Homo sapiens: one gene and its partner. The protein of the gene in region 1 purifies or fractionates together with the protein of each later gene. This does not show direct contact. Each region holds a gene or a part of one and is shown on either strand. Other genes may lie near its edges.

What was found.
Region 2: the proteins of FCHSD1 (region 1) and SBK1 purify together in Homo sapiens (affinity purification with mass spectrometry, with the first as the bait; one study listed by BioGRID). This does not show direct contact.

What each region holds. Positions count from the first base shown.
Region 1 is NC_000005.10:141,638,520-141,641,445, forward strand, and holds the end of FCHSD1 (F-BAR and double SH3 domains protein 1), read right to left. Parts: 3' UTR 2,170-2,926; coding exon of another isoform or gene 2,152-2,169; 3' UTR 1,948-2,151; coding exon of another isoform or gene 1,401-1,947; 3' UTR 1,131-1,400; coding exon of another isoform or gene 945-1,130; 3' UTR 783-944; downstream 1-782. Other genes in the region: RELL2 (RELT-like protein 2), read left to right, coding at 276-341, 436-502, 945-1,130, 1,401-1,947.
Region 2 is NC_000016.10:28,319,716-28,323,524, reverse strand, and holds part of SBK1 (serine/threonine-protein kinase SBK1), read right to left. Parts: intron 3,450-3,809; coding exon 2,604-3,449; 3' UTR 1-2,603. UniProt on the Homo sapiens protein: May be involved in signal-transduction pathways related to the control of brain development.

The DNA of each region.
Region 1 (2,926 bases):
AGCCTAGTGATGCACTCTTGAGTTAGCAAGTGGGGTGACACCACTCTGAAAGCAAAACTAGAGAAAGCAGCATGGGCAGGAACGGTCCTCTGGATGGTAGTCTTGGGCTTGCATTGGTGTCCCCATCTTTTCTGGTCCCTGAAATGCTGAGGTCCAGCATGATAGCAAGTAGGTAAAAGGGTATGTCCTAAGCAATAAATGATGGGAGCCACCAGGTAATATTCCCCCAAAGCTGACTCATTCCTGCTTCCTTGCCAATCTCTTTCATCCTTCAGCTGAGGACGATGACATGAATGAGGACACAGTAGAGAGGATTGTTCGCTGCATCATCCAGAATGAAGGTGGGTCTAGCATAGCCCCTTGCTCCCTCTTCTCCAACCTTCTCTTGCCCTGACCTCCACCTCCACTGACTCCCTCTTTTCCTTCTTCCCTCAGCCAATGCTGAGGCCTTGAAGGAGATGCTGGGGGACAGTGAAGGAGAAGGGACAGTGCAGCTGTCCAGGTGAGCTGGAAACAAGGGCCAGCATGACTTAGCTTGCCTTGGAGAGTATCCTCTCCTCCAGCACAATCCTCTCCCAGCCTCCTTGCATGTATGGGGTTGGGGGAAGGGCAAAGCTGGCTAACTTATAGGAAGAAAGTTGTTTTGTAGAAATCGCGATTCCTTCAAACCATCTCTCTCATCTAGATATCATCAAGCCTAACATTCACCTCTAGTGCCACTCCTTTGGGTTAAGCAGTGTTCTTTTTAGCAAACAGCCCTGGGAGGAAGAACATATGGTCACTAACATCTTAATATTGAGTTTATTAGATAAAGACAAGAAAAAATGGGGCTTGGGGAAATTGGGGCTTCTGGGGTTTTAAGGAGCATGCTGAAAGAACGTAAGAAACAAAACATGAAGGGAAATGGAAATGTTACCCTCACTCCCCTCCTCCCTGCTGTCCAGTGTGGATGCCACCTCCAGCCTGCAGGACGGAGCCCCCTCCCATCATCACACAGTGCACCTGGGCTCTGCAGCCCCTTGCCTCCATTGCAGCCGCAGCAAGAGGCCTCCACTTGTCCGTCAGGGACGCTCCAAGGAAGGAAAAAGCCGCCCCCGGACAGGGGAGACCACTGTGTTCTCTGTGGGCAGGTGGGGCAGGTGCTCCAGGGAAAGGGGGGCTGAGGTAGGGGGCCCAGTGATCAGGCACCTGATCCCAAAAGTGGGCCTTGGCTCTTTCCTCCTGGACTGGGAGCTCCGGCAGAAGTCAGGCTACACAATGTGCCCCACAATCTGAGAAGGCCTCCCCTACCTTAGGCCAGAGGGAAGTAGCCACCAAACTCAGGATGTCCCTGGTCAGAGGGGAGGGCCAAGCAGCCTCTGAGTTGTGGTCCTAAACCCCAGTGTTCCCTCCCCTCCCAGGTTCCGGGTGACACACATTGAGAAGCGCTATGGACTGCACGAACACCGTGATGGCTCCCCCACAGACAGGAGCTGGGGCTCTGGTGGGGGACAGGACCCAGGGGGTGGTCAGGGGTCTGGGGGAGGGCAGCCCAAGGCAGGGATGCCTGCCATGGAGAGGCTGCCCCCTGAGAGGCCACAGCCCCAGGTCCTAGCCAGCCCCCCAGTACAGAATGGAGGACTCAGGGACAGCAGCCTAACCCCTCGTGCACTTGAAGGGAACCCCAGAGCTTCTGCAGAGCCAACACTGAGGGCCGGAGGGAGGGGCCCAAGCCCAGGGCTGCCCACTCAAGAGGCAAATGGGCAGCCAAGCAAACCAGACACTTCTGATCACCAGGTAGGAAAACACAGCCGGGACTGCACTGGGCTGGGCTCTTATTGCTCTCTACTCTGGGGGGCACTGATAGGACCTACTCCTGGTCTCTCATTGTTGACCCCTCCCCTTTCTCTCAGGTGTCTCTACCACAGGGAGCAGGGAGTATGTGAGGTGAGTCTGCCTGAGCCCTAAATGAGGTAATCTCATCTTCCCATCACCTACTTAAACTATTTAAGCCTTTCGGCTCCCTGAACCCCCCGAGTAAACTGCAGGCTTAGCCTTTGCTATAAATCCCTTGGTTTGGTGGTGGAGGTAGGGAAGGTCCTGGAGCCCCAGGGGAAAAGCTGGACACAGCTTGAACAGGAAGCAACAGTGTTATTCTTCCTCTTCTCCAAGTCTCCTTCATTGTGCTGATGGACTACCAGCTGGCAGGGCCAGGGGGTGGGTGGGCGTGAAAGCCCTCCCCTCCACTGGACAGCACTGCCCCCCAGCTGAGGGACCAGCTCTACTTCCACCTGGAGTTGCACAGTCTCAGGCTGGGGGCCTCAGGAGAGGTCACAGCCCCTCAGTCTCTTCTCCTTCCCCTGCCTGCAACAGGCTGCCTGCCCCGCCTTCCCCAACACCTCGCTCCATATGATAGAGCGTGGCAGCTGGGAGCAGGCCCCTGCCCGTGGTGGGCCCCTAAAGCAATAGCACCGTAGGCCCCCTGCCCTCTTAGCACAAGAGGCCCAGGCCCTGGCCTGGCCTTCGTGCCCTTTATTCATTGTCAATAAATCCGCTCAGACCATTACAGCTGCTTCGCATCCTGGCTCCAGCTCCTGATTCCCAAGGCCTGTTCCTCTCCCCAGCCCAACCCCAGTGACCCTGGCATCCAGAGTGGGGTGGGTCATGGAGCCAGGGTGGGGAAAGAGGTGGGCCAGAACTACTAGAGACCTTGATGGATGGTTTCCAGCCCCAGAGATTTCAGGCATTTCACCACCCTAGATAGGGTCATGACAGAAGAGAAGGTAGTTCCGGTCCTAGAGATGATAGAACAATGGGAAAAAAAGGAGTGGGTTCCAGCTCTAGAAATGGGAAGGGGCAAGTTTCCACCCTTGGAGGTGAGGGTGGAAATAAGGGCGATTCCAGCTTTTGGCTGTGTTGCTCTGGATCATTGATGGTGTGGTCTGAC
Region 2 (3,809 bases), on another chromosome or scaffold:
CCTCCCATCCAGGGGGCTTCCCGTGCCCCACAGGCCAGCTCAGAGGGGTCTCTGGGAAGCACCGAAGGACAGGGGGCAGTGTGGGGGACACAGGGTCTGGGACAGAGACACGCACACACATACACACATACACACATACACACTGTACCTTCACAGAAGAATCGCAACAAGGGAGATTTTTTGTGTGATTTTTTTTTTTTTGTCTTCTAAGTCTTCATGTCTACAGTGTTATTTTTTGCTATTATTTTTTGTTTCTTCGACAGTGACATAAACTGAGGTAAACATCTGTGACCAACACCTCTCCTAAGGGGCAAAGGGTCCCAGCCCGACCAGCAGAGGAGGTGGCAGCACCAGGGCCCCAACCTGGTGTTCCGGTTCTGCTCTGGGGTCAGGCTGGAGGCTGGCCCTCTGGGTGCCTCTGGGAATGAGGGGGCTGGGCTACATAACTATGGTCCCCTCCCAACTCTAACATACTAGATACTACAACGGCTGGGGAAACTCCCGAACAGGATCTTAACAGAGAGAGGGAGAGAGAGAAAGAGAGGAGAGAGAGAGAGAGAGAGAGAGAGAGAGAGAGAGAGAGAGAGAGAGAGGGAGAGAGAGAGCGCGCGCGAGAGAGAGAGCGAGCACGGCAAGGGACGTCTACTGTGGAATCTCGATTCCTAGTTATTGCAGGAGAGATCAGGATGTCGCGAGGCCTAAGGCAAAAGGAGAAGTCGCGGCTGGGAGAGGCAGCCCCGATGGGCTCCAGGTGGGCCGGGGGCAGTGACCAGGGCCTTCTCTGAGACCTGGTCCTTGGAGGGAGTGGGGGTTTGCTACTTACCTGGCATGTGGAGGGCCCATACCCACTGGGGAGGTGGAGTCTGGAGAGGAGTGGGCACAGCAGGGAGAGTGGGGCCAGGCCCTGGGGCCACCCCACACTGTTTGTAAACTGGACCCGGGCAGGGCAGGGGACCTATAGCCCTTTTTCAAGGTGGGAATGAGTGGGGAGTGGAGAGGTTGGGGCACCAGCCAGAAAGTGCTCGGAGTTCACTCTGGCCGGCCTGGCCCATCAAAGAGCCCCTCAAATGGCCCAGAACCCCAGGAGGGACCCTGGCAGGGGACCCTGACAGGGACAGCCTCACCCATGTGGTGCTTATTGCGGGGGTCCCGGGCCTCCACAGAGAGGGGCAGGGGGTCAGGCGGGGCTGCTGTTGTCTCTGTTTTGCTACCTGGGGGCCTGAACCAACCTGCAGGGGCCTCCTTGCCGGATTTCCTGAGGGCTGTGGTGCAAGGCAGGCCTGGGCGCCCTGGGACAGCTGCCTGGGAGGACCAGGGTGTGGTGGGGGGGCCGCTGGTGAGGGGTCTGGACGCACAGTCACTGAACGCAAAGGATGGCACCCATGCGTCTGCACCCTACACATGTGCACACACACCTAGTCACACACTCGCCCCCTGGTGTCCACCGCCCCCATTCTCACACCCACACATGCAGGTCCTACGCCCTGCACACTCCAGCGCCAGAAAAGTGGGAGACGTGAGGATGGGGTCTTGGAGGTTGGCATGTTTGACCCCAAGAAACCCAGGAGAAATTTCCAGCACGAACCAGCTCGCCACCTGCTGGAAGCCCAGGCTACTACGTCTAGGCTGTGTGGCAAGGGCTGGGAGGACCCGGCAGAGGTCCCTGGGCCTGGGACAGTGCGGCTGGCAGGGGGAGCTGGGACCTGCTCTCGGCTCCACACTAACTCCCCTGCCCTAAGGATGGGGGCAGCTGAGACCCCTGCCCTGTGAGCCCTTCTATCCCCACAAGTTGTCAGGACAATCCCTTGTGGTTAGGGGGAGGGGCGGGGAGAGAGCTCTATTTCTCAGCCAGTGCCAAGCTACCCTCCCTCCTGGGCTGTGATTTCATTTGTGCAATGGGGGTGTGCAGGAGTCACTAGCTTCTCGGGGCCTGTCCCGCACATACACGCACTTATGCGACATCCAGACATTTGCTACATTTTCCAAGGGCTTGGCCTCTCCCCTCCAGCCTCCAGAAGGGAGGGCAGGACACAGCTGCCCTTCGCTCACTGCCCTGATCCCAGCCTGTGCCCAGGGGCCTTAAGCCCCCTCTCTGCCCAACACTTCAGTCCCTTTCTGTACCCAGGGTGGGGAGGGGGCAGAATGGGATGGCGAGGAGGAGGGGATCTGGGGTGGGACCGCAGGATGATCTGCCAGGGGGTATGGAAGGCCAGGAGCAACGAGTCCGGGTTCCAGGGCTCAGGGAGGCGTCTGGGAGTGTGGCCCGAAAGCTCCCTTGCTCCTGGCGTGTGTGTGTGTGTGTGTGTGTGTGTGTGTGTGTGTGTGTGTGTGTGTGTGTGTGTTGTGTGGTGGCCTCCGAATTCTCGGGTCTGTGCGGCTTGGCTCCTCTGGGCCAAGCCCCCGCTCACCAGGCCGCGCTAGGGGTCTTTGGTGGCCCCCTCACCAGCCCGCCGGGGACGGACCAGGTGCCGGGCCGCGTCCTGCCTAGTCTACCGCTGCGCCCCCTGCCCCGCGGCGAGGTGGCTCCATTCCCTACCGCCGCACCGGGCACCGGCTCGGGGCGGGCCCGGGCTGCTCCCGGGTCCGAGGGCGGCGGAGGCGACTCAGACGCAGATCTCGATGGCCGTGGCCAGCACCACCTGCCCTTTGCTCTTGTCCGCGCGGCCGTCGGTCCGGCCGGGGGGCCCCTGGGGAGCTAGGCCGGGCTCGGGCACAGGCACCGGCACGGGCACTGGCACCGGCACCGGCACGGGCAAGGGCACCGACCCGACGGCGGGGGGCGCGGGCCGGGAGCCGCTGCCGCTCTCGGTCAGCACCGTCCGCTTGAGCGGCCCAGGCGCCTCGAGGCGCAGTGGCCCGGCGGCGGGCGGGCGGTCCCCGGGGGGCTTGCGCGCGCGGTGCGAGGGCCGGCGGCGCAGCTCGGACGTGAGCTCGTGCTTGAGGAAGCGGAACACCTCCTTGGCTGGGCCGCGGCGCTCGGGCTCCAGGGCCAGTAAGCGCTGGAACATGCGCAGCGCGGGCTCGGTGAAGCGGCGCCACTGCGAAGGCAGCCCCGGCAGGCGGCCCCGCTGCCAGCGCACGAACTCCTCGAAGAAGGCGTCGGCGCCCGACGCCGCCTCCCACGGGAAGTTGCCGGTGAGCACGCAGAAGATGAGCACGCCGAAGGCCCACACGTCCACGCCCGTGTCCACCGCCAGCCCGTCGGCGCGGCCCGCCTGGCACACCTCAGGCGCCGTGTAAGGGATGGTGCCGCTCACGCGCTTGACGCGGCAGCCCACGCGGCGCGTCATGCCGAAGTCGGCCAGCTTTACGCGGCGGCACTCGCGGTCGAACAGCAGCACGTTCTCGGGCTTGATGTCGCGGTGCACCAGCTGCCGCCCGTGCATGAAGTCCAGCGCCAGGCCCAGCTGCTGCACACAGCGCTTCACCGTGTCCTCAGGGAGCCCCACCTGCGGGCGGCCGGGGGAAGCCGCGCTGTTTCCAGCTCTCCAGCGCCCGCCCCGCCGCCCTCCCCTCCAGCTCCCTCTCTAGCAAGGCGGTTTTCGCCTCCCACCCTGTCCCCAGTAACTGGGGCGACCGCGCAGACGCGGCCCGGATGCTGCTGAGCGCCCTTTCCCCCGCTGTCTCATCCAATCCTCATAGTGGCTACCATGCCTGCTTCTCCTATGGGGACATCGGGGCTCCAGGAGGGACACGCGGCTCTCCAGGAGGTTGATGAGGGGGTCCGCGGCGCCCTCCACCTGCTGTCATTTTGCCCTGCCTGCTAGATACTTATCTCGTCGGTCTTCCCCAACTAGAACGGGGCTCCC